Regions from separate parts of the Homo sapiens genome. Here all the other regions are linked to region 4. The links come from fine-mapping of genetic effects on gene expression. A gene starts in region 4. Each other region holds a variant in brackets. All regions are shown on one strand. Distances are between the middles of the regions.

Region 1 (2,688 bases), 110 kb before region 4:
ACCCAGGAGGCAAAGGTTGCAATGAGCCGAGATCTCACCACTGCACTCCAGCCTGGGCGACAGAGCGAGACTCCATCTCAAAAAATAAAATAAAATAAAATAAAAAATAAAAAGGAGGAAAGAAGAAAGGGAGAAAAAAAGGAAAGGAAGGGAAGGGAAGGAAAGAAGGAAGGAAGGAAGGGTGGGAGGGATGGAGGGATGGAGGGAGGTGGGAGGAAGGAAGGAAGGAAGGAAGGAAGGAAGGAAGGAAGGAAGGAAGGAAGGCAGGCAGGCAGGCAGGCAGGCAGGCAGGCAGAAAGAAAGTTAGTTTTCTCATTCCAAACAAATTAACATTTCATTTACATTAAACAATCATTTGCTAAACATTAGCATCTTTGTGTTACGAATTCACTGTCTTGTGATTACACAGTAAGTATTACTTTAAGAACAATTTCCTTTTCTTCTAAAAGAGGGATAATCTAAATTAACATGCAAAATGCACATATTAGTAATTAGTCAAACAAAAATGTGGATGGCATGAAAATTTGCAATGTGCAGCAATGGCTTTGAAAAATATCAGATCCAACTTCCAGACTTATAATTAAGAAGGAATTATTTTGTAAAATAAAAAATCCATATTTTATTTTTAAACTCTTGAATCTATTTTGAAAGAATTCTTTAACATATAGGATTAGTATGTACTGCACATATTTATTAAAGTATTTTGACCTAATGGCAGATGCTCCAGCCAAAGAGATCTCTCTAGCTATATCCCAAGAGGAATTATTAGTTTCAAAAGAAAGGACCCAAAGGATAGCTTGATATTGGGAAGCGAAGGAAACAAAAAATATATCTCTGGCCGGAGATGTAGAAGATATTAACAGGAACCAGACTCATTAATTACCTAGTAAGTTTTCAGGCATGGTCCCAAAATGGTCACTACCATGATTACATGAGAAAAAGAACTTACTCAAATATTAATTGTAACAAATAAAAATTCCTGTCCCTAGTCAAGTCAATCAGTCCTACCATCTCCTATCCTCTGGCAAGTTGTGTTTTTTGTTTGTTTTAGTTTTGTATATGTGTGTTAAAAGGCTAAAATAATGAATGACATATGAATAAAATACACATTTCAAGAACTATCAAAATTTCAAGCTAAAAGAAACATTAGATGTCAACCCAATGCAATCTTCTA[C/T]TGGTTTAAGATGAGAAAATGAGGATCCAGAGTCATTAACTGGCCAGGCTTTAGGTGGCAGTTAGGACTAAAATCCACTGCTAGGACTCTGACATCGGCCAGATCACAATTCTGTTTGTTATCAGACATAATTCACCTACATGCAAATACCCACAGAAGCTTCACTCTGCAAAACTATAAGGAGGTGGTGAAGTTTACAGAATCTCTATTCATTATATGCCCACATCTCTGAGGCCCAATGCAATTTATTTTACAAAGTTGTCTTCACCTACAAGTTTCACCTTGCAGGTGATTTACCTCTGAGAATATTATCTGATGGCCTTTAGAGAGGAGCCAACTTTTTATGCTTCTCCATTTCAAGTCAGTTCAACATTAAATTAGAAACTTCATGGAGCAGAAAGAGTGGTTTAGTATTCAGGGTACAAAGTCTTCAACAATAACTGTCTTCATACTCTTCCTATGCATGTTAGAAACTTTGTATTGATAATAAAATACTAAAATTGTTGAAATCTTAGAAATCAAATAAAAATTTTGTTTATTTTAAACTCTTAATTACTTATTTAAAACTATCTCAGAAAGAAAAGTAGAAGTCAATAATATATACTTCTCTGTAATGAATTTCTTATCATCATTACACTTTAAAGAATCAGATGCCCACGTCCAAAATGAATTTATGGTACTTCTTCAGTCCATAGACATTAATTGAGTGCATACTGTGTGCACACAATGTGCTATATGAGAGGGTCCCTGGACTCAAGGGGTCACAATAAGACAGGCGAGCTAATAGCGACCTTACATGAAAAGTGCTATCAAACAGATATTTGCAGGACTCAGAATTCAGATGAGAAAGCCACTAATTTCCACCCCCATCCTCCAGGCTGGGCAGAGAATGAAGAAGGGAATCATGGAAGGGCAGAAAGGCATGAAACATGCTTTTATTTTCTCTTAAAACAACAAATGAAAACTATTACATTAAAAGGCAGCAAGAAGCATTTAGCAAGCACAAAACGTCAACAATTAAAAAGCAACAGCAGGCTTCTGTGAAGAACCCAATCATGTGCATGCATAGCATTTAGTGACTGGCTGATCAAGAAAAGCAACTCTGCCTCTTGGTGAGGCTGACAGTGTGTTCAAGATAAAGGCAGGGATGACTGAGAAATCCCTTGGTGATGAGGTTACCAGCCCACAGGCCTGTTTTCCCTCTGCATGTTATCCCCTCAGCCCAGCATATCCTTCCTTCCTTCTCTTTGCATGACAGTCTTCTTTCTTCTTTAGATCTCAATTTAAATGTGACCTTCCCTTCCTTTCTGTCTAAATAGGCCCTACTATCATGACCACCACTGCACCAGTATTGTCTGTCTAGTTCTCTATTTTCCTCATAGTAGGTTACTTTCCTTACTTGTTAAATGGCTGTCTCCCCCATCATAATCGAGCTTCACAAGAGCAGTGACTTGTTTTAGATCAAGCATACCTGGGATATATCACATGCATAAATCTATTCATGAATAAATGCA
Region 2 (2,688 bases), 150 kb before region 4:
ATTAACATTCAGATCCATGAAGCCCAAACAACACCTAATAGATTAAATATAAAGAGATCTTCACTGAGACATATTATAATCAAATTCTCAAAAGTCAAAGACAAAGATAGAATTTGGAAAGCAGTAAGAGAGAAGTAACTCATCACATTCAAGGAAACCTGATCAGATGATTTCTCAGCAGAACCACTGTAGGCTAAAAAAGAGTAGGATGATATGTTCAAACTGTTCAAATAAAAAAAACTGCTGACCAAGAATAAGATACCTGGCAAGACTGTCCATCAGAAACAAAGGAGAGATATAATTTCCCACACAAACAAAAACTATGGGAGTTAATTTTTACTAGACCAGTCTCACAAGAAATGTTAAAGGAAGTTCTTCAAGTTGAAACAAAATGATGCTAACAAACAATGTGAAAACATATGTAAGTATAAAATTCACTATGAATTTATGAATATAGTCAAATTCAGAAGACTCTATTATTATAAAGATAGTATATAAATAACTTGATTTTAGTGTAAATGTTAAAAGTCAAAAGTATTAAGTATAGCTACAGTAATTTGCTAATGGATACACAATATATTAAAGACATAAACTGTGATGCCAATAACATGCTACATGAGGGGAGGAGAAATTAAAGTATAAAGATTTTTGTATGTGGTTGAAGTTCCCTTGTTATAAGCTAGCAATAGACTGTTATAACTATAAGAGGTTCTTTGTAAGCCTTGTGGTAACCACAAAGAAAAATCCTGCAGTGTATTCACAAAAGATAAAGACAACAGAATCAAAACGTACCACTACAAAAAGAATCATCACATCACAAAGGAAGTCAGCAAGAGAGAAAGAACAAAGAAGTTATAAAGTGGAAAAAATTAAAGTTACCTATTAATAATAAATTCAAATATAAATGAATTAAATTCTCCAGTCAAAACACATAGAATAGCTGAATGGATAAATAACAACAACCAACCATACCTTGCCTATAAGAAACTCACTTTTGCTTTAAAGACACATATAGATTAAAATTAAAGAAGGAAAAGATATTTCATGCAAATGTATTACCAGAGAGCAGAAGTGTCTATACTTACATTAGATAAGATAGAATGCAAGTCAAAAACTGTCATAGAAACAAAGAAGGTCATTATAGGGTCAATTCACAAAGAAGACATAATAATTGTAAATACATGTAAAGCCAACATCAGAGCACCTAAATAAATAAAGCAAATGGTAAGAGAACTGAAGAGATAAATAGACAGCAATACAATAATCATAGAGGATTTCAGTACCCCACTACCAATAATGGGCAGATTATCCAGACAGAAAATCAGTGAGGAAACAGTGGATGTGAACACCGCCACAGATAAAATGAACCTATCAGATAGATACAGAATATCCCATCCAACAGTAGCC[G/A]TATTCCTTCCATCCAACACCAACATATTCTTTTTCAAGCATGCATGGAACATTATCCACAATAGAATATATTAGCCCACAAATTGAGACAACAAATTTAAGAAGACTGAAATCATATCAAGCATGTTTTCCAGCTGCAATAATATGAAATTAGAAATCAATGACAGGAGAAATTTCAGAAAATTCTGATACAGAAAAACTAAACAACATGCTCCTGAACAATCAATAGTCAAAGAAGAAATTAAGGGGGAGGAGCCAAGATGGTCAAATAGGAACAGCTCCGGTCTATAGCTCCCAGTGTGAGCGACGCAGAAGATGGGTGATTTCTGCATTTCCAATTGAGGTACCGGGTTCATCTCACCGGGGAGTGCCAGACAGTAGGTGCAGGAAAGTGGGTGCGGCACACCATGTGCAAGCCGAAGCAGGGCGAGGCATCACCTCACCTGGGAAGCGCAAGGGGTCAGCGAATTCCCTTTCCTAGTCAAAGACAGGGGTGATAGACGGCACCTGGAAAATCGGGTCACTCCCACCCTAATACTGCGCTTTTCCAATGGGCTTAAAAAACGGCACACCAGGAGATTATATCCCGCACCTGGCTCGGAGGGTCCTACGCCCACGGAGTCTCACTCATTGCTAGCACAGCAGTCCAAGATCAAACTGCAAGGCGGCAGCCAGGCTGGGGAAAGGGCACCTGCCATGGCCCAGTTAGTTGTTTGATTAGGTAAACAGAGCAGCCGGGGAAGCTGGAACTGGGTGGAGCCCACCACAGCTCAAGGAGGCCTGCCTGCGTCTGTAGGCTCCACTTCTGGGGGCAGGGCACAGACAAAAAGACAGCAGTAACCTCTGCAGACTTAAATGTCCCTCTCTGACAGCTTTGAAGAGAGTAGTGGTTCTCCCAGCACGCAGCTTGAGATCTGAGAACAGGCAGACTGCCTCCTCAAGTGGCTCCCTGACCACTGAGGAGCCTAACTGGGAGGCACCAACCAGTAGGTGCAGACTGACACCTCACACGGCCGGGTACTCCTCTGAGACAAAACTTCCAGAGGAATGATCAGGCAACAGCATTTGAGGTTCACCAATATACAATGTTCTGCAGCCACCGCTAATGATACCCAGGCAAACAGGGTCTGGAGTGGACCTCTAGAAAACTCCAACAGACCTGCAGCTGAGGGTCCTGTCTGTTAGAAGGAAAACTAACAAAAAGAAAGGACATTCACACCAAAAACCCATCTGTACGTCACCATCATCAAAGACCAAAGGTAGATAAAACCACAAAGATGG
Region 3 (2,688 bases), 320 kb before region 4:
TAGTGGGCCCTTTCAATATGCCACTGTTTTTGTTTTTTGTTTTTTTTTCTTAGCAAATCCTTAAAATCTGGTACACAAGGTGTCCCAGATTCTCTGCACCTGCCCTGGAATCAATGAACTCTCCAAGGCATTCTAGTTATTGTTTTTTGAAAGATGATGTTTAGAAACCAAAATCTGGACATTAAGTGTGCTCACTGTTACTGGGGCCTCACACTTTGCAGCCTCTCTCAGTGTATACAGCTAGGAAATATATGCATGTTATGCTAATTCATGTGCACACATACAATTCTCAGCATATATTTTAAAAAATTATTCCATGTTAATATCTCTGACTTCAGTACCATAGGGTGGTTCATACTAATTTTCTAATTTTCTGTCCTCTTTATTTGCATGCATTTTTGTAATTGTTTTCTTTGCTTTTAAAGCCTAATATTATTAAAATATCTTTCATTTTTAGAATAGTGTAAGCACCCATTTTATTTCTTCTATATCCAAGCTAATTATTAATACTTTTTTGTTTGCTATGAAAAAATCAAAAAATTAAAAAGAACTTTGTTTCCCGATTCTTACCAGAAAATCTCCCTCAATTTGCTACAATTTTTAACTATCATTTTTGCCAACTTTATTTTGAAATAATTTTACCCTCATTTAGAAGTTGCAAAAATAGTACAAAAATTTATTCTGTAACTTCGGTAGCTTCCCCTACAGATAACATCTTTGGAAACTATAGTAAAATGAGCAAAACCAGTATTACATAATTCACACTTGCACAATACTATTAACTAAACTCAGACCTTATTGGAGTTTTGCAAGTTTTTACATGCACTCATGTTTTTTGCATTGTGGGGAGGTGTACAGTCCTGTGGAATTTTGTCATACATATTGATTTGTGAAACCACTATGGTAATCAGGACACACAACTGTCTGATCACTCCAAAAAGCTCCTTCTTGCTCCTTTATAGTCACACTCTCTCCCCAGTCCCAACTCTTGGCACTCACAGATTAGTTCTCCATCACTATAATTCTGCCATTTCTAAGAATTTTATATGAAATGTAATCATTCTGTAGGTTGCCATTTGAGATATGCTTTTCACTGAGCATAATGCCTTGGGTTCCATCCAAATTGTTGAGTTATATCAGATGACACAGGCATACCACTATTGCTCGGGGAATATGTTTAGTTAAGTAGATGGGGCCCCTCATCATTAAAAAAGAAGTTATATCTTGCAACTTTTTGATTCAGTTTTAACAGAAATTCTAGGTTTGAAACCACAAACATTGAATTTCCTTTTTTAGTAGTAAACTCAAGGGATTTGACTAAGCTGGATGACTTTAATTTCCTTTTATG[A/G]TCTAGAACCTTGTAAAATGATTTTAAAAATAAAGCCCAACAGGATATAAGGCATTTAAGGCATGCAGTAAATTCTGTAGTTTTGCTCTTCAGATATTGTGTCTCTATTTATTCAAGGTTGTTTTGCCCCCCTCCTTTCCCCTCCGAAATAATTACTTTAGTCTGATAATGGCATTCTGAGGAGGGCAGGGTTGGGAAAGCATAATATCTAATGAGGTCAAAAATAATAACACATCTTCTGGCTTTGGGGATGCCATGTGGCACAATTCAGGCTAATTAGAGTCAACATACTAACTTCTGGGATTTTTGTGACAATTGACAAGAAGAGAAATTTTGTTCTGCTGAATTCTTCATACCATAATATGGAGGCAGCCAGCCTAGAATGAAACTACCCAGAAGAAAGCAATGCTGAGAAATGGAGAAAAAGCAAATCCTGCTAACATCATTTGAATATTTAGATCAGTCCACCTTAGCTATAAATTAATCCTTTTGCCTGCTCTGTGAAAATGGATATGTCCCTTTAAAAATGTTTCCTTTGCCGGCCGGGCGCAGTGGCTCACGCCTGTAATCCCAGCACTTTGGGAGGCCGAGGCGGGTGGATCACAAGGTCAGGAGATTGAGACCATCCTGGCTAACACGGTGAAATCCTGTCTCTACTAAAAATACAAAAAAATTAGCTGGGCGTGGTGGCGGGCGCCTGTAGTCCCAGCTGCTGGGGAGGCTGAGGCAGGAGAATGGCGTGAACCCGGGAGGCGGAGCTTGCAGTGAGCCGAGATTGCGCCACTGCACTCCAGCCTGGGCAACAGAGCAAGACTCATCTCAAAAAACAAAAACAAAAACAAAAAAAAAAACAAAAAAAATTTTTTTTCCTTTCCCAGCTGCTACCATGCTAAACTCTATCATCAGTAGAGGGCGATAGAGAGACACTGCAGAAGAAAATGGGATTTTGCTTCCTAGAGCCTGTATGCTGGCTCCGCAGGCTCCTGCAGCACAGGCAGCTTCTCCAGCACCCAGCCCCTCCAGTGTACACACCTTCCTCAGTGCCCAGCTTCTGCAGTCCCTCCTCACAAAGCAGTTTCGTAGCAGAGTCCTCTAGTGAGATACCTCCACATGAATTTTTCTGGCACTCTGGAGGGCTAATTTCAAGCATGAAATGAAGGAGGACTTGGCAGAAAATTCTATGGGCACAGCACCACCGTGAGGTCTAGTGAGTCAAGGCCATAGCGTCTCCAGAGAGCTCTGGATCTCAGCCTCGGGTATGAGCTTTTCCTTGGGTGCTCAATTCCCCCCGACAGAAGTAGTGGCTGCTCCTTAGATCTGCTATTCTTATATTCTTTAGA
Region 4 (2,688 bases):
TCTTAAGTATTTTCTAAAAACGAGACCATATTACATGTTTATCATTAAATGTTATTTTTAAAAACATTTGGACAAAATCTTTTGAGTGGCTTCAAATTCACCAAAGATTCCCTAACGTTTTGTGTTTACAAATATATGTATATATTTTATAATATATATTTCTAATATGTAATATATTTATAAATATTTTAAAACATATTTTATACATATAAAATATATATTTTTGCAAATATATATGCTTATTATTAAAACCTATCTTTGTGCGCCTGTTACATAGGGAACTCCTATAAGATACTAGAGGAAACAAACAAGGGGAAGGGGAGGATGGATACCAAGAGAGGAAATTGAATTGTACAAAGGGTTTTTATTAATTCCATCTATTTTTAAAGCCAGAAAGACATACTACCAGCTTGCTGTCTCCCGGCACAAACATGCGCGCGCGCGCACACACACACACAAACACAGACAGGCTACATCAGCACGGGATTCCTGCGATCCCTCCCCGCCCCCCGCAGCCCCCTCCCCGCCCCCCGCAGCCCCCTCCCCGCCCCCCGCAGCCCCCTCCCCGCCCCCCGCAGCCCCCTCCCCGCCCCCCGCAGCCCCCTCCCCTGGCGCAGGCAGCCGCGTCCGTCCTTCCCGCGGTAGCTCCGCGCACTTCCTCGCGACCGCATCACCTACCTTGCTGGGAGCTCAAGACAGATGCCGGACAGGGCTGCTGCTCCGAAGGAAAAGGCTCCCAGGACCAGCAGTAAGAAAACGCAAAGAAAAAAAGGTGGTAGTGAGGCTCCTTTACTTTCCACAACAAGGGGAAGTGTTGAACTCTATGCACTGGGCTGCTCCGCAGCGCGGGTTTCGGAGGAAATAGGCGGCCGAGAGAGCTGCGCCTGCGATGGGAAGTTGGGGGGATTCCCCCAGCCACCCAGCCACCCCCGCCAGGCTCCTCTCTGGTCCCCGCCGCAGCCTTGACAGCTCCCCTGGTCTCCGAGCCCCTCCAGAGCCCTGCTGGTTTCCACCCGGAGCTGGGCTGTGTTGCCACATGCACTTGAGAAATCCTAGCAGTTGCGCAAAGAGTCCCAGAAGTTAGAAAGGGTGATTGTGTGTGAATGTGTAAATATACAGTACAAGAGGCTGGAACAACTGAGTGGGGCCAACCCTCAGACACAGCTCGAGGTTTCAGATTTCATTTGGCAACTGGTAGCTTCACAGGACTCGAGCCGCACTACAGGGGAGGCCGGCAGGAGCCCCGCCCTCCCAAAGCCTGGGTTATCTGAGAGCTGGAGCTACACCGCCTGGCGCCACTGACAGAATGCGCCCTGCCTGGTTCCTCCGCATCTGGCATCGCTCGTTCCTTTCAAGTGCATCATAGATACTTGTTGGCCACAGATCTGGGGCTGTGGGCGCGAGAAGGTTGGTGAATACATGTCTCCTGCCCTCAAGGAGCTCTGCATTTCATTGGCCAAACCCCATACACCGGTTTTACTTGCTTCTACCAACTCTGTCTCGCTAACATTTTATTTCTCCAATTAGAATTACCTGGGCCATTAAAGCAATATTCCTGGAAATGCACATTTAGATGGATGCTCTCTAACTAGAGCCTTAGAGAAATTCAAAGTATAATTACTTTCTTACGGTGGTGTAAGAACTCTCGGAGTTACACAATATGGGACAAAAGGACAAACTAGTAAACATTGTTTTGATGCAGGCCGTCTCTTCCCACCATCACCACAATGTCTGTTTCAAATTGTGATCTTACAGTTCTGGTTACCTGGCATGCTGAGTCAAATTATTTCAAAAAGCTTTGTAAAGATCTCTGTTTTAGAAACCCACTTACAGTGGATCAGTCATGCAATCCTAGCACTTTGGAAGGCTGAGGCAGGAGGATCGCTTGAGCCCAGGGGTTTCAGACCAAAATTGGCAACATAATGAGACTCCTGTCTCTATAAAAAAAAAATTAAAAAAATAAAAAAAAAGTTGGGCGTGGCGGCGTATGTCTGTAGTCCCAGCTACTCAGGAGGCTGAAGCGGGAAAATCCCTTGAGCCCAGGAGGTCAAGGCTGCAGTGAGCTATAATTGTGCCAGCGCACTCCAGCCTAGGTGACGGAGTGACACCCCCGTCTCGAACAATTACTACTGCTACTACTAATAAAAGAAACTCTCTTTTAGAAATCATCACCAGATATCCTTAAGACACAGAATGGGGGTGTCCTCACTAGGGATCTCCAGTGAGAGAGGGATATGGAAGAAGAGCAAATGTTTAGTTTTAGAAACACCAAAAATAAAAGGCTGAGTGGACACTGATATGTTTTTCCTTTTTGTCCTCTTTCTCCAAGTTCTTGGAGAAACGAATCTACCCCATCCCATGCTGAGGTCCTACTATAAACTTGATTTTCTGGTGGGAGAATTCTCAGCCCTTTAATGAATCAAATTAATTTGTGTGGGGAAAAAATTGCGTTTCATATTTCATTTTAAAAATATGTATGGAATTCCTAAGCTAGAAGTAATGTAGCTTATTTTCCAATTGGTGGGAATAAATTACCTTCATCAACCCACATGGCCTTACATGTTCTAGCAACACCCTAGCAGGTGAATGCTGATGGGCAGTTTCAGATGAAAGCTGGAAAATAACATTAACCCAAATGAAATTTGCACACATTTGATGGACTCAAAAGCCTCAGGAAGACAAGTACCA

Alleles and levels. Positions count from the first base shown, and alleles are read on the strand shown. Sizes are in standard deviations (SD) of each study's normalised expression. Not every link is listed here.
For the expression in tibial artery of the gene that starts at base 1,088 in region 4, G is the high allele of the variant in region 3 and A is the other (moderate effect, 0.69 SD a copy in GTEx).

Evidence for each region.
Region 1: its variant is fine-mapped to the expression of ARHGAP24 in whole blood (TOPMed, PIP above 0.99).
Region 2: its variant is fine-mapped to the expression of ARHGAP24 in whole blood (INTERVAL, PIP 0.96).
Region 3: its variant is fine-mapped to the expression of ARHGAP24 in tibial artery (GTEx, PIP above 0.99).

Annotation. Positions count from the first base shown.
Region 1 is chr4:85,587,769-85,590,456 of GRCh38, reverse strand. All of the region lies in intron 2 of ARHGAP24 (Rho GTPase activating protein 24), which reads right to left. Among named protein-coding and RNA genes, the nearest start is that of ARHGAP24, 110 kb to the right of the region's middle. The variant C/T (reference allele first, on the strand shown) is at 1,175.
Region 2 is chr4:85,627,190-85,629,877 of GRCh38, reverse strand. All of the region lies in intron 2 of ARHGAP24 (Rho GTPase activating protein 24), which reads right to left. Among named protein-coding and RNA genes, the nearest start is that of MIR4451, 94 kb to the left of the region's middle. The variant G/A (reference allele first, on the strand shown) is at 1,408.
Region 3 is chr4:85,796,673-85,799,360 of GRCh38, reverse strand. The region is part of intron 3 of ARHGAP24 (Rho GTPase activating protein 24); the gene reads right to left. Among named protein-coding and RNA genes, the nearest start is that of MIR4451, 76 kb to the right of the region's middle. The variant A/G (reference allele first, on the strand shown) is at 1,349.
Region 4 is chr4:85,473,550-85,476,237 of GRCh38, reverse strand. ARHGAP24 (Rho GTPase activating protein 24) reads right to left here and starts at 1,088. Exons shown (of 10, transcript NM_001025616.3): 1 at 679-1,088.